Regions from separate parts of the Homo sapiens genome. Here region 2 is linked to region 1. Evidence: fine-mapped expression QTL. A gene starts in region 1. The other region holds a variant in brackets. All regions are shown on one strand. Distances are from middle to middle.

Region 1 (10,663 bases):
TCTGTGGTGGGAAAGGCACCTGTGGAATTCAGCACCAGAGCTGTAGGGCAGAGAGAAAGGGCCCGAATGGTGGTGGGGGTGGCACCTCTCACTGATGTCCTTCTGTAGCCAGGCGTGGTGGCAGGAGCCTGTAATCCCAGCTACTCGGGAGACTCAGGCACGAGAATCACTTGAACCTGGAAGGCGGAGGTTGCAGTGAGCTGAGATCGCACCACTACACTCCACTCTGGGCAACAGAGGAAGACTGTCTGAAAAAAAAAAAAAAAAGAAAGATGCCCTCCTGAAAACAGCAAGGGAAGAAGTCAAGTCTGTCACGCTGCCTGCTGGGCCAGTGCTCAGCTCTTAAGCAGCCCCAGTTTGCCAAAATGCTCCCTAGTCTCCCCATGTCCATCTTGAAGAAAGCCTTGGAAGACGAGAGATTAGGCCCCTCCTGTGGAGTCAGTGAGGGTTTCTTGTGGGCACGTTCCCAGAAGGGAACTGAGGCAGGGGCGGGATGGAGAGGACACCAGGTTCTCGTTGAAGGCTGCACTGGGTTTTGCATTAGGTCAGGGTCTCTCCATGGTGTCCTGTGAGTGAGTGGGTCCATGTCTACTCCAGTCAAACTGGACAGCAAGGTCTCATTTATCCAATGCACAGGACATCTGAGGGTTGAGTGAGACCATGGTGTCTGTCCTGCTGTTTGGCCCCAGGCCAGAGATCTGGATGTCTGTCCAAGGCCTGACTGCTGAACTCCTACTTTTCCTACAAAACCCTACCCACATGGCCCTTCCTGCGGGAAGAGATCTTGAGCCTCCCTGGCTATTAAGACTCTGCTGTGCAGCCTTCTTTTACTGGACTCAGGGCTATCTTCCCCAGACTAGGGCCTTCTTGAGGACAATCGTGGTGGCCCAGTGGTTGACGCTGTCTCCCCTGCATGTAGTTGGTCTTCCTGGTTGCTTCTTGCCCCTGTGGCTCCCTTGGGAGACTGAAACTCAGAGGACAGCTTCTGGTCTGCTGTTACATGGCTCCCACAGGGAGACTGGCCCCACCTGTGCCCCACCCATCACAGCTAGGGCCTGGGATGGGTCAGACACTGGAAGAGCCTCCCCCTAGGCCATGCATATGGACCGTGCCCACACACTGGGGTCAGTTGCTGTCCTGAAGTGCCCAGGGAGACACAGAGAGTGAAGAATCCAGCTGGACGTGGTGGCTCATGCCTGTAACCCCAGCACTTTTGGAGGCTGAGGTGGGCGGATCACTTGAGGTCAGGAGTTCCAGTCCAGCCTGGCCAACATGGTGAAACCCCGTCTCTACTAAAAATATGAAAATTAGTTGGGCATGGTGGCAGGTGTCTGTAATCCCAGCTACTTGGGAGGCTGAGGCAGGAGAATCACTTGAACCGGGGAGGCGGAGGTTGCAGTGAGCCAAGATCGTGCCACTGCACTCCAGCCTGGGCGACAGAGTGAGACACAGTCTCAAACAAAAACAAAAACAAAAAACAACTTTTTGTGTGTGTGACAACTGAGTGAAATCAGAAGTGTTAAGTAATTATACTCAGTAGGTGTCTAATACATGTTTATTTCACTGGGATGGAGAGCAGGCCCTACTTCCAGGGAACAGGTTGAGATCTGGAGTCCCTGTAGGGTCAGAGCTAGAGGACCCAGAGGAGGAAGTCCTGGAAGGCCTTCCTGGAGGAGGGGCTGTCAGAGCTGAGTCCAAACTGAAGAGGCATTTGCAATCCAGGAGAAAGCGACCCCTGGTAGGGGGAGCTGCAAGAGGAAAAGCTGAGAGATACCAAGAAATGCAAGGGACCTGCATCCCCATGCATCCCTCTGCCCATCTGCAGGGGCACTTAGAAGTACACGGAGCCCTCGCTGTCTCCTTGGTCATCGAATTTCTGGATCTGAGTCTTGAGATGCCTCAGTTTACCCTTCAGGTAGTGGCAGCGAGCCTGCTTGTCCAGGAAGCCAGGATCCTAGGCAGGGCGAGACCCGGAAGTCTTTGCAGCAGTCTGCCCTGTGGCCTTCAAGCTGCTTAACTCTCTGCCTTTCATTCTCCGAGCCTCAATTTTCTCTCCTTGAAACTGGGCACAGGCGACCGGGTGAGCCGGGCAAGGTGGCTCATGCCTGTAATCCCAGCAGTCTGGGAGGCCGAGGTGGGCGGATCACTTGAGGTCAGGAGTTCGAGACCAGCCTGGCCAACATGGTGAAACCCCATCTCTACTACAAATACAAAAATTTGCCAGGCACGGTGGTGGGCGCCTGTGATCCCAGCTGAGGCAGGAGAACCGCTTGAACCCGGGACGCTGAGGTTGCAGTGAGCTGAGATCATACCACTGCACTCCCGCCTGGGTGACAGAGCGAGATTCTGTCTCAAAAGAAAGAAAAAAAAAAGAAACTGGGCACAGGCACCCCAGCCTCACAGAAGTCTCAGGGGTGCAAGACCAAGCTGTGGGATGCAAGACTCACCATTCGCTTCATCTCAAACTCCCTCCAAACCCGGGCTGCAACTTGGGCCTCCTTCTGCAAGGGGAGGAGTAGAAAGGGGGTTTAGGGAGAGTTGAATTCAAGAAGGGATGAAGAAACTGAGGCTCAGACAGACTAAATGCCCATCTAGTGGGGACTTCAAGGGCTGACCTTAGCCATGTGTCACGGCGCCCAGCCAACCGAGAGGAGAAAGAGTCCTGGAAATCTGGACCCAGTGGGTGTCCCAGAGGCTTGGGTCGGGCCACTCAGAAGGGCTGCGGGGCAGGGCTTTCTCCCTAGTGCTGACCTGGCTTTGGGGTGGGGGCAGGGAGCTCAGCAGGGCCTCCAGCTGCCTGAGCTTTGCCTGTGCACACCCCACCTCGTGCTGGAGCTCCAAGAACTCTCCGTACTGGTCCTGGAACACTGCGACATAGCGGCTCCGTTCCCTCTCACTGCTCACTGGCGGGTACTTACTACCAGGTTGAAGAGGGTCAGAGTGTGAGTGTAAAGAACCCCACTCTTTCCCCCAGTCAGTGTAATTTGCTTTTCTTTGTCCATGCTGGGCCCCTACTAGAAACGTTCCTTTTCTCTCCCTCTTTTAATTTATTTATTATTATTTTTTGAGATAGAGTCTTGCTCTGTTGTCCAGGCTGGAGTGCAGTGTAGCGATCTCAGCTCACTGCAACCTCCACCTCCCGGGTTCAAGCAATTCTCCCACCTCAGCCTCTTCAGTAGCTGGGATTACAGGCATGCGCCACTATATCCAGCTAATTTTTGTGTTTTTAGTAGAGACGGGGTTTCACAATGTTGGCCGGGCTGGTCTCGAACTCCTGACCTCAGGTGATCCGCCTGCCTCAGCCTCCCAAAGTGCTGGGATTACAGGCATGAGCCACCGCGCCTCGCCTATTTATTTATTTATTTTCGGAGACGGGATCTCACTGTGTTGCCCAGGCTGGAGTGCAGTGGCTTATTCACAGGGACAATCCCACTACTGATCAGCAAGGGATCCTTTCCTTTCTACTCTTTGGTAAACTCTTATTCAACTATCAAAGCCCCAGCCTCAGTGCCCCTCTCCTGATCCCAGGCATGAAGAATCACATGGGGGACACTCACAGCTCATAGTCGGGCACTGGGTGGGGCCTAGGCTTATGCCCCTTAGGGATGGCTCCAATAGGCTTCTTGGCGCCCAGGAGGGCCTGGGAGAGCAACTCATCCTCAAACACAATCTTCTTGGTCTTTGCCTTGTGGGGTCCCGGCTGGGGCTGGCACGGAGGGCGGGGGGCGCTGGTTTTGAGGCCTCGGGGCGCCAGTCCCTGCAGCTGCCACAGGAATCGTGGTCTGGAGTTAAATCGGGGTGTCGGGAAACCGGAGTCCCTCAAACTGGAGGGGCTAAATCTTTTGCCTAGAGGCCCGGCCTGGGGACCCCCTCCCGGTCAGGCTCACCGGGGGCCCAGGCCCAGGCGGGTGAGTATGCAGGTGCCCCCGGGAGCCGCGAGTCTTTGGGGGCTCCCGGGTGGGCATCGGCCTCCGGGAGAAGCAGCTCAGGGGTTTCCGGGCTGATGGGCGGGTCCTGCGGGGGGCGTCGTGTCCCGCGCGCGGCGGGGGTGGTCTGCGGGCGGCCTGTGGGTGGACACGCGGAGAGGACACGCCTGACGACGCGCACGGAGAAAGGACGCGCGGGCAGCTCGGCCGAAGAGCGGCCAACTCTCACCCCGCGGGAGCAGAGTTCCCCAGAACGACCGCTATTTGCATAGACGCACGCGATTGGTCCGCAGCGACGTCCAGACCCCGCCCACGACTGCGCAACCCAAATAAGCGCTATGTAAATGAACTCTGACGTCGCCGCGCAGCCTGGGACCGGCTCGAGTTAACCCCCGCGCTGCCGGAGCCTCGACCTCCAGGGCGCGCAGAGCCCACAGACGACCGCGCCCGAGGAGCTCCTCGGGACCTCCGCCCCACCTGCAAGGCCGTCCGGCTCGCTACCGCCCCGGGTCACCTGTCCCAGCGTCTGGAGCTCCGAGCCTGGATCTGCTGTCGGAGAGGCACTTCCGTCCGGGTTGTGCATTTACTGCAGGATGGACCCGACTGGCGGGGTCGCTCAGCAGGGCTGGGGGCGGGGTCTGACGAAAGGGGGCTGGGCCTGACGGCCTGGGGGCGGGGCTGACCTGGCTGGGCGTGGCCACACACCTTCGAAACATGGTCGACTCCGACCTCGACCCTCAAGTTTGTCTGAAAAAACGGGATGGTTTTGCAAATTTAAACTTATTTATTTTTTTCAGCAATTATATGAAAAAAATTTTTTAACAAGAGTCTCACTTGCCCAGGCTGGAATGCAGTGGCGTGATCTCGGCTCACTGCAGCCTCCGCCTCCCGGGTTCAAGCGGTTCTCCTGCCTCCGGCTCCCGAGTAGCTGGGACTACATGCGCACACTTCCACGCCCAGCTAATTTTTTGCTGTTGTTGTTGTTTGTATTTTTAGTAGAGACGGGGTTTCGCCACATTGGCCAGGCTGGTCTCAAACTTCTGACGTCAAGTGATCCGTCCGCCTCGGCCTCCCAAAGTGCTGGGATTACAGGTGTGAGCCACCGCGCCCGCCCGGAGTTTCGTCATTTTAGCCAGGCTGGTCTTGAACAGCTTCCGGGACTCAAGCAATCCGCTTGCCTCGGCCTCCCAAAGTGCTGGGTTACAGGCGTGAGCCACCGCACCCGCCCCTTTCTTTCTTTTTCTTTTATTTCTTTTAAGGGCGAGCAGGTGGTGTTAGATGGCATCTTTACTGAACAGTACTGTTCCTGGCAGAGCAGAGCTAACTTATAGACAGTGTGCCCCAAATCGGCCTTTTATATATATATATATAGAGAGAGAGAGAGAGAGAGGCTGTGTTGCCCAGGCTGGAGGGCATGATCATGGCTCACTGTGGCCTCGACCTCCTTCCTAGCCTCAATTGATCCTTCCACCTCAGCCTCCCAAATAGCTGGAACCACAGGTGACACAACGCCTCCCTAATTTTTGTGTTTTTTGTAGAGACGGGATCTCGCCGCGTTGCTCAGGCTGGTCTTGAACTCCCGAGTTCCAGCAATCCACCCGCCTCAGCCTCCCACAGTGCTGGGATTACAGGTGTGATCCCATAATCGTGCTTGGCATTTTTTTTTTTTTTTTTTTTTTTTTTTTTTGAGAGGAAATGTCCTTATGGGTCCAGGCTGTTTTCCAACTCCTGGACTCAAGCGATCCTCCTGCCTCAGCCTCCTGTCTGGGATGTGTGTATTTTACATTTGGAACATACTGCCAAGTTACTCCTTAGTGAGATTGTACCATTTATGCTCCAAGAGATACAGGGGTTTTCCCACAACCTTGGCGGCACTGGCATGATAACGGATTCCCTCACCTGTACTTTCTTTTCTTTTTTTTTTTTTTTTGAGACGGAGTCTCGCTCTGTCTCCTAGGCTGGAGTACAGTGGCGCGATCTCGGCTCACTGCAAGCTCCGCCTCCAGGGTTCAAACCATTCTCCTGCCTCAGCCTCCTGAGTAGCTGGGACTACAGGCGCCCACCACCACGCCCGGCTAATTTTTTCTATTTTTTAGTAGAGACGAGGTTTCACCGTGTTAGCCAGGATGGTCTCGATCTCCTGACCTCGTGATCCGCCTGCCTCGGCCTCCCAGCGTGCTGGGATTACAGGCGTGAGCCACAGCGCTGGCCCCTCACCTGTACTTTCAAAGTTGAAAATATTGCCTACTAAGGCTAGGCGCGGTGGCTCACGCCTGTAATCCTAACACTTTGAGAGGCCGAGGCGGGCGGATCACAAGGTCAGGAGTTCGAGACCAGCCTGGCCAACATAGTGAAACCCCGTCTCTACTAAAAATATAAAAAATTAGCCAGGTGTGACGGCGGGCGCCTGTAATCCCAGCTACTTGGGAGGCTGAGGCAGGAGAATCGCTTGAACCCGGGAGGCAGAGGTTGCAGTGAGCCAAGATTGCGCCAGTGCACTCCAGCCTGGATGACAGTTGAGAGACTGTCTCAAAAAAAAGGAAATATTGCCTAGTGTATGAGTGAAAAAATTTAGAGACTATTTCTCTATTTCGTAATTCTTTTCCTGTTATATCCTGCAAATGTTTTTTCTTGTTGATTTTTAGAAGTTCTTCAAATGTCAGCCGGGCAAGGTGGCTTATGCCTGTAATCCCAGCACTCTGGGAGGCCGAGGTGGGTGGACCACTTGAGGTCAGGAGTTCAAGACCAGCCTGGCCAGCATGGTGAAACCCCGTCTCTACTAAAAATACAAAAATTAGCCAGGCATGGTAGCACACACCTGTAATCCCAGCTACTCAGGAGGCTGAGGCAGGAGATCACTTGAAACCGGGAGGCGGAGGTTGCAGTGAGCCACGATTGTGCTGCTGTACCACTCCAGCCTGGGCGACTCCAAAAAAAGTTCTTCAAATGTCAACAAAATTCGTTTAAGCAGGCAGTGTATCTTTTTTTATTGCTGCTATAAATGGGATGCTTTAATACATTTTAAAGCTATATACATATATAGTATACAAGAAATGAATTTTTAAATATCTATAAGTCTCTTGCTAGCTTAAGGAATTCTTTTATTGAAATATTTTTAGTCACATCGCTTGGGCCTATCATATATACGGTCATATCATCTGCAAATAATTTTGCCTTCTCATTTCTTATTTTTCTTCTCTTATTTTTCAATCTCATTTCTTTTTTTCTTGTTGTTTGTTTTAGAGATGGGGTCTCACCGTGTTGCACAGTCTGGAGTGCAGTGGCACGATCATAGCTCAGTGCAGCATGATCACTTGGGCTCCTGGGCTCAAGTGATCATTTGCCTCAGCCTCCTGAATAATTGGTACTATAGGCACGCACCACCACACCTGGATAATTTTTTTTTTTTAGACGGAGTCTTGCTCTGTCTCCCAGGCTGGAGTGCAGTGGTGTGATCTCGGTTCACTGCTACCTCCGCCTCCTGGGCCAAGCAATTCTCCTGGCTCAGCCTCTTGAGTAGCTGGGATTACAGGTGCCCGCCACCATGCCTGGCTAATTTTTGTATTTTTAGTAGAGACAGGGTTCTACCATCTTGGCCAGTGTGGCCTGGTGAGCCAACCAGGTGGCCTACACCTGGATAATTTTTAAATTTTTATTGGTAGAGATGGGGTCTCGCTATGTTGCCCAGTCAGGTCTTAAACTCCTAGGCTCAAGCAGTCCTCCTGCTTCAGCCTCCCAAGTAGTTGAGACTAAAGACATGAGCCACCATGCCTGGCATTTTATTTATTCTATTGACAGGGTCTTGCTATTGTTGCCCAGGCTAGTCTCTATCTTCTGGCCTCAAGCAATCCTCCTGCCTCAGCCTTTGAAGTATCTGGGACCACAGGCGTGCACCACCATATTTGGCCCCATTTCTTTTTTTCTTTTTTTTTCTTTTTTTTTTTTTTTGAGACGAAGTCTCGCTCTTTTGCCCAGGCTGGACTGCAGTGGCGCTATCTTGGCTCACTGCAAGCTCTGCCTCCTGGGTTCACGCCGTTCTCCTGCCTCAGCCTCCCGAGTAGCTGGGACTACAGGTGCCCGCTACCATGCCCGGCTAATTTTTTTTTTGTATTTTTAGTAGAGACGGGGTTTCACCGTGTTAGCCAGGATGGTCTCGACCTCCTGACCTCTAGATCCACCCGCCTCGGCCTCCCAAAGTGCTGGGATTACAGGCGTGAGCCACCGCACCCAGCCTCTTTTTTTCGTCTAGTTGTGCTGACTACCACCTCAAGACTATGTTACATTATGGAGGCAGGGCGACTGTAAGCATCCTTCCCCATTCCATTCCCCCCGTTTTTTTGTTTTTGTTTTTTCAGATGGAGTCTCATTCTGTTACCCAGGGTGGAGTGTAGTGGTGCGATCTTGGCTCACTGCAACTTCTGCCTCCTGAGTTCAAGTGATTCTCCTGCCTCAGCCTTCTGAGTAGCTGGGATTACAGGTGCGTGCCACCATGCCTGGCTAATTTTTGTATTTTTGTAGAGACCAGGTTTCACCATATTGGTCAGGCCGGTGTCGAACTCCTGAGCTCAAGTGATCTGCCTATCTTGGCCTCCCAAAGTGCTGGGGTTACAGGTGGCTTTAGCCACCGCACCTGGCCTATTCCTCATTTTGATGGCAGAAGTTTTGAGTATTTGCCCATTAAAGTCAATGCTCCCTTTGGCTTGAGATTTTTCAGTGAAGTGAGGAACATGTCCATCTATTTCCTTTCTTTTTAAATTAGGAGACTTTGGGTAACGGAGGCTAAACAGTACAATTTGTCATTTCAGCATCTGTGATTTTGTTTTCTGAGGCATTAATGTAGCTGGCTTTTGTTGTTGTTTGAGACAGGGTCTGGCTCTGTCACCCAGGCAGGAGTGTAGTGGTGTGATCACAGCTCACTGCATCCTCGAACTCCTGGGCTCAAGCCATTCTCCTGTCTCAGCCTCCCAAGTAGCTGGTAGTATTTTTTGTAGAGACAGGGTTTTACCATGTTGCCCAGACTGGCCTTAAACTCCTGAGCTCAAGTGGTCCTCCCACCTCAGCCTCCCACAGTGCTGGCATTACAAGGTGTGAGCCACGGTGCCCTGGCCAACGTGGCTTTCTAATAAGGAATCATCCCTGTGTCTCAGGCATAAACTTCCTTTTTTTTTTTTTTTTTTTTTTGAGTAGGGGTCTTACTCTGTCACCCAGGCTGGAGTGCAGTAGCATGATCACTGCTCACCGTAGCCTCCAGTCCCTGGGCTCAAGGGGTCCTCCTGCCTCAGACTCCCCAGTAGCTAGGATTACAGGCGTGAGTCACCATGCCTGGCTGTCTCCTTCTTATGATCTTTTTTTTTTTTTTTTTTTTTTTTTTGAGATGGAGTCTCGCTCTTGTCGCCCAGGCTGTAGTGCAGTGGCGTGATCTCGGCTCACTGCAACCTCCGCCTCCTGGGTTCAAGCAATTCTCCTGCCTCAGCCTCCCAAGTAGCTGGTATTACAGGTGCCCACCACCATGCCCAGCTAATTTTTTGTACTTTTAGTAGACATGGGTTTTCACCATGTTGGCCAGGCTGGTCTCGAACTCCTGACCTCAGGTGATCCGCCCGCCTCAGCCTCCCAAAGTGCTGGGATTACAGGCATGAGCCACCACGCCTGGCTCTATGTTCTACTTTTTAAAAGCTGCCAGTAGCACTTTTAAAAATCTCTACTTGGGCTGAGCACAGTGGCTCATGCCTGTAATCCCAGCACTTTGTGAGGCCAAGGCAGGAGGATTGCTTGAGGCCTGGAGGTCGAGGCTGCAGTGAGCTATGATTGCACTACTGCACCGTAGCCTGGGCCACAGAGCGAGACCCTGTCTCAAAAACAAAACAAAACAAAAAAAACCACACAACCCTACCTAAGGATTTTACACCCACGTCAGTGGGGGTCCACTGGGCACCTCCAAGTGTCCCCACAATGCCGTCAATGCTGCCATGGGGCAGACACCCCAAGCCCTCGTCACTGAGCCCCCTCAGTTGCTCTCACAGGCTGTGCCCTGTCTGGAGCTGGTGTGAGAGCAGGGCTCAGGACCCCAGAATTCCTACTCCACGACCCTTTTCAGGACCCCTACCCTAGTACTCACCCAGTTCTCCTTTGAAGTGATCAGACTGTGACCTGGGGAGGGCAGAGTCTCCAGTGAGCACTGGGCACGACCCATGTGTGTTTGTCGAGTGACTGTGAGGGATCTGTAGTGTCCCGAGAGCTGAGGCTGCAGTGTGGCTGAGCTGTGTCCTTGAACTATTGCCTTTAATTCCAGGGAAGACCTCGTGTTGATGCGCCCTCCTCCAGGCTGAGCTCCTGTCATGGCCCCACTCCTCCCCGACCCTCCAAGCCCCTGTTCTGCCCTTTGGCCTCACCCTGGCCTTACATCGCTGAAGGCACTGTGTTCGGCTACAAGTCTGCCAGTCGGAGGCTCCTAGGGCCTCCTGGGGCTGGGCCTCGTCCATTGTGGGGTAGGCTCCAGAGGAACATGGGCGGAGGCAGCGTTTGATGAGTCACCACCTGCCAAGACTGACTTTTTCTTTTTAGAATCTTTTTTTTTTTTTTTTTGCAATGGAGTCTCGCTCTGTTGCTCAGGTTGGAGTGCAGTACTGGGATCTCAGCTCACTGCAACCTCCACCTCCTGGGTTCAAGTGATTCTCGTGCCTAAGCCTCCCAAGTAGCTGGGACTACAGGCGTGCGCCACCATGCCTGCCTGATTT
Region 2 (10,663 bases), 21 kb before region 1:
TGAGACTCTGTCTCAAAAAAAATTTTTTTTAATTAAATAGGATATTTCCCTTATCAGAGTATAATTTTGCTCTTATTGGTATATCGAACCAGATGTGGGTCTCTGAGAGCACAGCAGCTGCCACTGTCTGGGCAGCTCCAATGTCCAGTGTGGGCCAAGCACGGACTTGGCCTAGGTTAATGTCACTTTCTTGTCTTCTGCCTCCCTTAGGGCCTTCCTGCTGTCCCTGGTGGCACCAGTGGCATTGATGGTGGCCAGGTGGGCAGAGCCTGGGACCCAGAGAAGTTAGCCCAGGAACTGGCAGCATCGCTCACCAGGTGTGTGCCTGGGTCCTGGGCTGTGCGGGGGGTGGGCAGGCAGCCTATGTGAGAGCCCCCGGGGGTGTCGTCTGCAGTAGAAGCTAAGGTGTACCCCGGTGTACAGGTGTGTTTACATGACAATACTGTGGGCAGGTGGGTAGGAGGAGACCTGGGAAACAGGATCGGCTGGGGCTGTGAGCCCCCTCTCTTCTCCTTCGCAACAGGACACTGGACCTGCAGGAGCAGCTGCAGTCTCTGCGCAGGGAGCTGGAACAGGTGGCTCAGAAGGGGCGAGCCAGACGGTCTCAGAGTGCCGAGCTGAACAGGGATTTATGCAAAGCCCACAGGTAGGACTGTTCTGCATCCCCCCAATCCCCCTGGCACCATCCCCCACCAGGATATCAGAAGTATCCCTGGCTGTCTCTGGGCCTTAGCATTCCCCACTGCCCCAAGATAGGCAGTAACGGTCAGGTGTGGTGGCTCACACCTGTAATCCCAGCATGTTGGGAGGCTGAGGCCAGCAGATCACTTGAGGTCAGGAGTTTGAGACCAGCCTGGCCAACGTGGTGAAACCCCATCTCTACTAAAAATACAAAAATTAGCTAGGCGTCTTTGCACGTGCCTGTAATTCCAGCTACTTGAGAGACAGGAGAATTGCTTAAACCCAGGAGGTGGAGGTTGTGGTGAGCAGAGATCACACCACTGCACTCCAGCTTGGGTGACAGAGCAAGACTCTGTCTAAAAAAAAAAAAAAAAAAACAACAGGCTGGGCCAGGCGCAGTGGCTCACGCCTGAAATCCCAGCACTTTGGGAGGCCAAGGTGGGCAGATCACCTGAGGTCGGGAGTTCGAGACCAGCCTGACCAACATGGAGAAACCCCATCTCTACTAAAAATACAAAATTAGCCAGGCGTGGTGGCGCATGCCTGTGATCCCAGCTACTCGGTAGGCTGAGGCAGGAGAATCGCTTGAACCCGGGAGGCAGAGGTTGCAGTGAGCCGAGATTGTGCCATTGCACTCCAGCCTGGGCAACAAGAGCGAAACCCCATCTCAAAAAACAACAACAAGAAAAAACAGGCTGGGCATGGTGGCTCACGCCTGTAATCCCAGCACTTTGGGAGGCTGAGGCAGGCGGATCACCTGAGGTCAGGAGTTCAAGACCAGTCTGGGCAACATGGTCAAACCCTGTCTCTATTAAAAAATACAAAAAAATTAGCTGGGCGTGGTGGTGGGCGCCTGTAATCCCAGCTACTTGGGAGGCTAAGGCAGGAGAATCACTTGAACCCTCGAGGCAGAGGTTGTAGTGAGGGGAGATCTTACCATTGCACTCCAGCCTGGGTGACAAGCGCGAAATTCTGTCTCAAACAACAACAACAACAACAACAAAAGACCAGCTAGCTGGGACCCTTGGAGACCCAATGTGAAAGAGCCCCCATTCTGGGAGTGGGAGTACACGGCCCTTGCCTTGGGTGGACTCGGGGGCTGTTTCCTGACCCAGCCACCCACCCCTTCCAGCGCCCTGGTCCTGGCCTTCCGAGGAGCCCACCGGAAGCAGGAAGAGCAACGCCGGAAGTTGGAGCAGCAGATGGCACTCATGGAGGCTCAGCAGGCCGAGGAGGTGGCGGTGCTCGAAGCCACTGCAAGGGCCCTGGGGAAGCCCAGGCCTCCCCTCCCGCCTCCCCAGCTTGGGGACACCTTTCTGTAGGCCCCTTACCCAGCCATGTCTGGACATGCCAGACAGCTGTGGCATGTCATAAACTGTCCTGGAGTGACATCATGTCATGTTGCATGATTTGGCATGTTGGGGCACATTTGGCGTGAGGGAAGCTGGTGCACATGGGTGTCCAGGGCCTGATGGGGTGTGGCCAGGCAATGAAGAAAGACTCAGGTGTCTTTGGCCTGGCACCAAGTGGAATGTGAACTTCATATCAGTGGGGTCAGGCCAGAAGCAACCTGGGCTATGGGACCAGGTCCCTGGGACTGACGCATTTCGGGGGTCCGTGAGGTTGCATAGCCACAGCTGAAGTTCCAACTGGCCTGTCTCCCGAAGCCCAGGGAGGGATTCATGGGGACTGGACAGAGCTTCTCCTGGCAGCCCCTTCCCAGGGAGATGCTGGGTTTGGCTGGCAGATTTTCCTGAAGGGGGCCGGGCTCAGTGGTGCACATCTGTAATCCCAGCATTTTGGGAGGCCAAGGTGGGTAGATCACTTGAGCCCAGGAGTTCAAGACCAGCCTGGGCAACATGGCAAAACCCCATTTCTACAAAAAAATACAAAAATTAGCCAGGCGTGGTGGCATGTGCCTATAAAGATATTTAGGAGGCTAAAGTGGGAGGGTAACTTGAGCTTGGGAAGTGGAGGTTGCAGTGAGCTGAGATCACGCCACTGCACTCCAGTCTGGGTCACAGAGTAAGACCTTGTCTCAAAAAAAAAAACAGGCCAGGCGTGGTGACTCATGCCTGTAATCCCAGCACTTTGGGAGGCTGAGGCGGGGAGGATCACCTGAGGTCAGGAGCTTGAGACCAGCTTGGCCAACATGGTGAAACCCCCGTCTCTACTAAAAATACAAAAATTGGCTGGGTGTTGTGGCACATGCCTGTAATCCCGGCTACTCGGGAGACTGAGGCAGGATAATTGCTTGAACCTGAGAGGCGGGGGTTGCAGTGAACCGAGATCGCGCCAACAACAAGATCGTGCCCGGGCAATAAGAGCAAAACTCTGTCTCTAAATAAATAAATAAAACACAAAACAAAACAAAAAGGAGGGAGACTGAAGCTGGAATGGTTCAGATTCAGGGTGTGGATGACGAGTTGCTACTAACTCAAAGCTAAGGTCAAGGGTTTCTGGACTCCATGTGGTCGAGCTTGCCTGTAATCCCAGTATCTCAGGAGGCCGAGGGAGGAGGACTGCTTGAGCCCAGGGGTTTAAGACCAGCCTAGGCAAAATAGGAGAGTCTGTCTCAAAAATAAATAAATAAAATAAGGTAAAGGGTTTCTGGGTGGGGGACAGGCATAGCAAAGGTAATAGTCTGGGACTCAGGGGGCGTTGTACTTCAAGAGAAACTCAGAATGAATGCCAATGGTGGCCAGTTCCAGCTTTCTCCTGGGGGCCCAGGAGCTGTGGGACGTGTCAGGTTAATAGCAGGCAATGAATTAGCATGTCATTTGCATAAGTCACATCTCCCTGCCCCTCCACACCAGGACTGGCTGAGTCTGGGAAAGGGGAGCTTGGAACGACCCAGCCAAGCTTGGATTAGTGGCCAGCTGTCCCCCTTCAGGGTGGCAGCTGAAACCCGAGACAGGGATTAGAAAGACTTTCATTCCCAGCCTTGGGGGCAGGTGCTCCAGGCCTCACCTGTGCAGGTGTGTTCACCGCCTCTCCCAGGGCAGGACCACGTCAGCCTGAGGTCAGCGCCAGTCAGCGGCCTGGACTTGAATCCAGTCAACCTGACCCCAGAAACAGAACAAGAAGTATGGTGGCGAGCACAGTCCCCTCCAGCGAGGGCTGGGGCTAGTCACCTTCCGACCCACACGCTGTCCCTGGACTTGGGCCAACTTTGAAGAAAGCAGGGAAATGGAGGCAGACCACCTTGCTCGTGTTGGGGTGGGGCAGAGAAGCTGAATTTCTTCCCTGTACCCTGCCGAGCCCCAGAGTCTAAGACCTGAGTTCCTGGTCCCACCAGGTTGCCTGTGGAGGGGCAAAGGGAGCCAAGGTCACATGTGGGAGGACGGAGACAGGTTCCCAGGCTGCCCCAGCAGGATCTGGCCATTCCCACGGGTGCCCCCTCAGCAGATGGGCCTAGGCCCCTTTGTCCCTGGTTTGCGGCCGCCGCAAGGTCAAATGTTACTGCAGGGCCGCGGGCAGGGGTCAGGGAGGCGGGGTAGAGCCTTGATCCACCCCCAGGCGGGCCCCAGGGGGCACAGGGGTGGCCAGGCTACTGGAAGGGGGTGGGGCAGCCTTTGGGACTGGAACTACTGGAGTTTCTGGGATCTGCGATGGTCTTTCTTCCCCCATCTCCCACCCAGCTCTCAGCTGCCTCGCAAGACTTGTCTCCCCCAAACCTAGTTCTTTGCTCCCTCCCCTTCACAATCCCCTCAAGATTCCTTGAGTCTTCTCTCCCTCTTCTTTTTTTTTTTTTTTTTGAGACAGGGTCTTGCTCACGCTGGAGTGGAGTGACGTGACGTGATTATAACCCACTGCAGCCTTGAACACCTGGGCTCAAGACGGGTCTCACTTTATTGCCCCGGCTGGTCTTGAACTCCTGGTCTCAAGAGATCCTCCTGACTTGGCCTCCCAAAGTGTTGGGATTACAGGCGTGAGCCACAGCGCCTGTCTCTCATCTAAATCTCTTTTCAATCCCTTCTGAGACCTCCACCCCAATGCTCCCCACCAAAGATCCTAGCAGGTCCAGGCAAGGGGCCTAGGATCCCTGCCCTCATCCCAAATTACCAGTCACATTCCCATGCAGCCTCAGAACCAAAGGGTCGTCTCTGCCCACCCACGCCTTCCTCTCTCCCAGCAGGGATTACATCAGGCTGTGGGCAGAACCCGACTCTAGACCTCGGGAAGTCCTTGCTCATGTCTAATCCTAGTCCTTCCTGCTTTT[C/T]GTGTTTACTAACGCCTCCTCCTCCACCTCCCAGGCAGCCAGAACGTCCCTGGAGCAGGTTGAGAGGCCCAGGGCTGGGTGTGCCTGGCTCTCCCAGAACCTCAGTTTCTTTTTAAGTGTTGTAAGATCTCTAAGAATCTTTCCCCCTACTCCAGGGAGGGCAATTCTTCAAGTCTCATCAGGGCTCTGGGAGGCAGAGGAGGGGGTGCGCAGAAGGCACTGTCCTGGCCAGAGCTCTCAGAGGCCCAGCTGCATGCTCTGGTGTCCAGCTCTGGGCTCAGGGCGGGGTGGGACCACAGTCTGGGTGGCTGGGGCTGCAAGACTCCGAGGTGAAAGGTCACTCCTGGAAGGGCTTGTCCAGCCGGTTAAAGGTTAACCTGCCCAGAGCCAGAGGCTCGCCAGCCCGGGCCTCGCATACAAAGGGTGCTTAATAAATGCTGGTCGGGCGGGCCCCAGCCCCGGTACTGGGGGATGGGGTGAGTTGGAGGTGGCGGCAGCTGCGAGGCTCCAGGGCGCCTGGAAGAGACATCTGCAGTCCAGCCGGCCGCCAGGCCAAGCCCTTTCTGCAAAGCACAGAAAGAAAAGGAAATTAAAAGGGAAAAAGGGGCAGGCCCCCAGACAGGGCATGCCTGTCGCCTCCAGCCGCGCGGGGCGGGTGGGCGCCCTGCCCCCGGAGGCCAGAAATTCTGCAGAGGGGCCCCCTGACCTCGCGGCCCCGGCCAGCCGGTCTCAGACCACAACATCCCTTCCCCCTGGAGATTCCGGGCACCAGGTGTTAACCCGAGCAGAGAAAGGGTGGGGTGGGGGTCAGACGCGGCGACTTTCTGGAAGAGGAAGCAAACACAATCTAGGGTGTGTGTGTGTGTGTGTGTGTGTGTGTGTGTGTGTGTGTCTGTCTGTCTCGCGCGCGCGTGTGTCTTGCGCAGGGGCGTACCCCCCCCCCGGGTGCCACTGGCCCCCCATCATTGCTTTGCCAGGAACTGTGGGGTGGGGAGAGGTTCCGAGGGGCGCCTCGAGGGTGATCGAGCGACCCAACGTCCAAGGCCAGAGGTGGAGGGGAGGGCCTTGGAGAGACATCTTGGCGAGGCTCAAGGAAGGGCAGAGGGCAGGCGCGGCTGAGGCTCCCGCCGCGGCCCGGCAGGGGTTAAGGCCCGAGCTGGGCGAGGGCGAGGGCGGGGGTGCGGGGGGAGGGGCAGAGGGAGGCGGGGGAGGGTCAGGCCCCGCGGCCCAGCGCTCGGCCCCCGTCCCTCCCGCCGGCCCGTTCGCCCGGCGCCGCGCGCGGCCACCCATGCCCTTATAAGGGCGGCCGTCGCCGGGGCAACGAGCGCCCGCCCCCAGCCCGCGGCGCGCGCCCCTGCCCCCGCCCCCGCCCCCCGCCCGCCCCGCGAATGGAACGCTGTGTGTCAAACCGGCCGCAGCGCGAGGCCGGCGCGCGGGGTCGGTGGCGGTGGCGGCGGCGAGAGCGAGGCTTGGGCCCAGGCGCAGGCCCAGGCCAGGCAGGAGCGGCCGCAGCGGGGGCGGCAGCTCCAGAGGCGCCGGCCCAGCGGCCCTGCAGGCCCGGAGCGGCAGCCGCGGGCGCCGGGGGACCCAGGGGGCGCGGCGATCAGCCCCGGCGCGCACCCGCCGCCCCTCCCCCCCCGCCACGGGCGGCCGCGCAACTTGCGGCCAAACTTTCCCCCCGGCCTCCCGCGCTCGGATGGCGGCCCGCTGAGTTGGCCGCAGCCCCCGGGCGAGCGGCGGCCAGGCCAGAGGACGCCCCCTGCGCGGCTCGGGCCGGGCCATGGCCCGCGCGCCCCCGCCGGGGCCCCAGGGCGGCGGGACGCGAGTCCTCTGGGCCCCCGGCCCGCGCCTCTAGCGTGCCCCTCCCGGCCCCGGGCCCGGCCCCGCGCACGCGTGGGAAAGTTGGCCTGGAACCGGCCCGACCAGTTCCGCCCGGGCGCGAGGACCGGCCGCAGGAAGTTGCTGCAAAACTTTTTTGGGGGGTGCAGCCCGTGCCCCCCGCGCGCCGGGGCCGAATGCGCGCCGCGTAGGGTCCCCCGGGCCGAGAGGGGTGCCCGGAGGGAAGAGCGCGGTGGGGGCGCCCCGGCCCCGCTGCCCTGGGGCTATGGCCATGGTGACCGGCGGCTGGGGCGGCCCCGGCGGCGACACGAACGGCGTGGACAAGGCGGGCGGCTACCCGCGCGCGGCCGAGGACGACTCGGCCTCGCCCCCCGGTGCCGCCAGCGACGCCGAGCCGGGCGACGAGGAGCGGCCGGGGCTGCAGGTGGACTGCGTGGTGTGCGGGGACAAGTCGAGCGGCAAGCATTACGGTGTCTTCACCTGCGAGGGCTGCAAGAGCTTTTTCAAGCGAAGCATCCGCCGCAACCTCAGCTACACCTGCCGGTGAGCCCCCCATCCGCGCGCCGCCGCCGTGCACCCCGCCCCGACCTGGGGCAGGCCTCTGACCTGCTCGGTCACCTTGGGCCTGGCGCTGACCTTCCCTGGGCCTCCACTGCCCCCTCTGAGATAGGGGCACAGCACCCTCCTCCCGCATTCCATGGCTGGGATTGTGTATACAGTCGGCGCTACATCGTTGCAGGTTCCCCCCCCATCAGGTGGTCCCTGGAGGCTTTTGCCCCAGTTACTTGCTTCTCCTTCCCTCCGCTTTTTCTCTGGGGAGGGGTCATCTCCGCGCTGGGGTGGGGGTAGGGGTGCTGTCAGGGGTGGTAACCCAACCCCAGGGCACCCGTTCTCGGGGATCCCGGCGCGCGGGATGCCCTCGAGGGAATCGAACGTGGAACTTGGACCGTGGAGCTCGCAGCGTCCAGGGGCCATTGTCTGCGGCCGCGCGGATCGATACGGCGCGCCCTTGGGGTCAAATATCACTTCCAAAGTCGCTGTGGCTACGGAGGCGGCAGACGGAGGGAGGCTGGGGTGGCACGGGGCGGCCTTCTTCGCATGAGGGGCCCAGCGGTGGGGGTGGGGGTGGGAGCTGGGCTTGCCCATCTCAGGGAACCCCTCTGGGCTCACTCTGGGCCTTGGGTCACCGGAAATCGCCACTGGAAGGCCGGCAGGGCCACCGGAATTGACTGAAACGTCCCTCTCCCCCAGGGGTGGGTGCAGACCTGGGGCTCCTGGAAAAATCCCTCAAACTTTGGGTGTCTCTGAGACGGGCAGGGAGTGAAACGTTTCCGAGCAGGAGCCTTGGGCTGTCCCAGGTCGGAGACCTCTCTGGCAGGGCGTGGCCTTGCTAGCTGTTCTGGCGGAAGGTCCCCAGGGAAAGCGATCGGGGTTGTCCAGCCCGGGAGTTCTTTTCTCACCGTTCCCGGGCGAGCATCCGATCTGTCCGTTTATAAGCCCCTACTCTGCACCCCAGGAACATGCAGGGTCTCTGTGGAGCCCGTCTAGACGGTCTCAGTTCCCAGCTGCCCAAAACAGAGGCCCAAAGGCCCAGAGAGAGGTCCTGGTGCCTGCTTTGCGTTGGACATGGAGGGACGCTGCCCGAGTTGGGGGCACTGTGGGGGAACTGTGGGGCTAGGGTGGGGACCGCTGAGTTCGGATCGGAGTGGCCCCAGGGAGAACGGCTGATGGAAGGCTTGTTGGCTGAGGCCACCAAATAGGGCCCCAGGTACCCGAGGGTGGAGTTTGGCCCCAGGTCCCGGGTCAGGGCTGGCCTGGTGTGGCCATGTGTGGCAGAGCTGCCTTGCTCCCTCCTCCAGCACAAAGTGGGCCACTAGACTTTGGCCTCATTCTTGCTGCTGGAAAACCGCCTGCTCTCTGGTCATATCTTTAGGGAGGGTAAGGGAGGGGGGCTCAGGCAGTTTTGGGGTCCCAGGAGCTTCCTGAGGGTGGTGTCAGGGAGCAGCAATTTTGGGTGGGGGGGGCCTTGCTTGGAGCTGACAGGTTTGTGCTGTGTCAGTTGTGTGACCTGGTGAAATCACCATTCCATTCTGAGCTTCAAATGGATTGAGCAGGGTCTCGCTGGGGCCCAGCCTGGGTAGTTTGATGCCAGCCCCTCCAGAGAGACCCCAGCTCCAAGTCTAGCTCCTGAGAAGCCCCCAGTCTGGAGGAGACACAGTGAGACAGATGCCCCAAGTCTGTGGGATCTGGGGTCCCAGGGAGAGAGCAGAGGCTCTGCCTGGAGGTCAGAGAGGGCTGCCTGGAGGAGGCTAGGGGACATGAGCCTTGAAGCATGGAGTTGGCAGGTGGAAGAAAGGCCACAGGGACATGCCAGAATGTGGTCCAGACAAAACACTTAGTGGCAGACTGGGGGAGCTGTGCTGTAAGAGGGGGACTGTGCAGCCATGGGAGAAGTCAGAGCTAGGTGGGCCTGAAATGCTGGCTGAGGGTAATGGGGAGCCATAGAGGGTGTGTGAGCAGGAGAGGGCTCTGATCAAATTGGACTGGAGGCCAGAAGCCCAGGGAGGAAGCTGAGTTGGGCCATGGGGTTGGGCAAAAAAGCTTGCACTCTTTAGGTGGGATAACAGGAAGAACTTAACTGTTTCCCTCCTTGGAGGGATGGATCTGTCCCAATTCCACAGCTGGGGAAGTTGAGACTGAAGGTTCAGGGCCTCCCCTGAGGTCAGGGGCCCCTGAGCTGGGCCTCTGCCTGCCTGCAGGGCCGCCCCAGGCCAGGCCGTTTCCACCCGGCTGCCCTGGACCCTCCCACCACCCAGCCGCTGGGCTTTGTTCTGGTTCTGCCTGAGCTCCCTCTGCCCTAGTGGGGCCTCTTCCCAGGGGCTCAGTGGCTGGTGCTGCAGGACCCAGGCAGTGGTGGAGGGGGGGTACGGGGGAGTGGGCGCAGATCCTCAGCTTTCCTAAGTTGGGTTCTCCGGCTGGGCTCTGGGTCTTGGCACTGTCCCCCGTGAACCCCTCTGACCCAGTCCATCCCATATGATAGGGCAATATCTGACCTCCCATTTTCAGATGAGGAAACCGAGGCTCAGTGGGGCAGTCGCCACCTGAGGGGCAGGGCTGGGTATCTGCAGCTGAGATTCATCTGTTTTGTTTTGTTTTGTTTTGTTTTTGAGACGGAGTTTCACTCTTGTTGCCCAGGCTGGAGTGCGATGGCGTGATCTCAACTCACTGCAACCTCTGCCTCCCGGGTTCAAGCGGTTCTCCTGCCTCAGCCTCCCAAATAGCTGGGATTACAGGCATGCGCCACCATGCCCGGCTAATTTTGTATTTTTAGTAGAGACAGGTTTTCTCTATGTTGTTCAGGCTGGTCTCAAACTCCCAACCTCAGGTGATCCGCCCGCCTCGGCCTCCCAAAGTGCTGGGATTACAGGCATGAGCCACTGCACCCAGCCTTTTTTTTTTTCTTTTTTTTTGAGACAGAGTCTCACTCTGTCACCCTGGCTGGAATGCAGTGGGTCAATCTTGGCTCACTGCAACCTCCACCTCCCCAGTTCAAGCGATTCTCCTTCCTCAGCCTGCCAAGTAGCTGGGATTACAGGCATGCGCCACCACGCCCAGCTCATTTTTGTATTTTTAGTAGAGACGGGGTTTCACCATGTTGGCCAGGCTGGTCTTGAACTGACCTCAGGTGATCCACCCTCCCCCGCCTCCCAAAGTGCTGGGATTACAGGCGTGAGCCACTGCAGAGATGCATCTGTTTAATTCCCTTAAGTGGTGGTTCTACTCTGTGACTGTCTCTGTGTGTCCCCTGGGTGTCCAGCTGGAACCCCAGGGGTAGTTGCTCCAGGCCCAGGCCTTGGAGAGCCCCCAGCTCCTGGTGGCAAGAGACCAGGGGAGTCCAAGGGCAGGGGCCAAGGGGAGAAG

The links. PIP is the estimated chance that this variant, and not a neighbour inherited with it, causes the effect.
Region 2: its variant is fine-mapped to the expression of OCEL1 in sun-exposed skin (GTEx, PIP 0.98).

The regions. Positions count from the first base shown.
Region 1 is chr19:17,220,094-17,230,756 of GRCh38, reverse strand. It overlaps OCEL1 (occludin/ELL domain containing 1), which reads right to left and starts at 4,531. Exons shown (of 6, transcript NM_024578.3): 1 at 4,441-4,531; 2 at 3,888-4,064; 3 at 3,558-3,763; 4 at 2,752-2,917; 5 at 2,448-2,501; 6 at 1,538-1,954. The coding sequence starts at 4,509. The coding sequence ends at 1,832. RefSeq lists enhancers at 3,263-3,936, 3,937-4,611 and silencers at 4,135-4,184, 4,205-4,324, 4,555-4,644.
Region 2 is chr19:17,241,565-17,252,227 of GRCh38, reverse strand. It overlaps NR2F6 (nuclear receptor subfamily 2 group F member 6), which reads left to right and starts at 6,309. Exons shown (of 4, transcript NM_005234.4): 1 at 6,309-7,285. The coding sequence starts at 7,008. It overlaps USHBP1 (USH1 protein network component harmonin binding protein 1), which reads left to right. Exons shown (of 13, transcript NM_031941.4): 11 at 211-317; 12 at 524-646; 13 at 1,814-3,057. The coding sequence ends at 2,003. RefSeq lists enhancers at 2,528-3,476, 3,477-4,426, 5,376-6,325 and silencers at 5,589-5,668, 6,069-6,318, 6,719-6,878, 6,889-6,958. The variant C/T (reference allele first, on the strand shown) is at 4,904.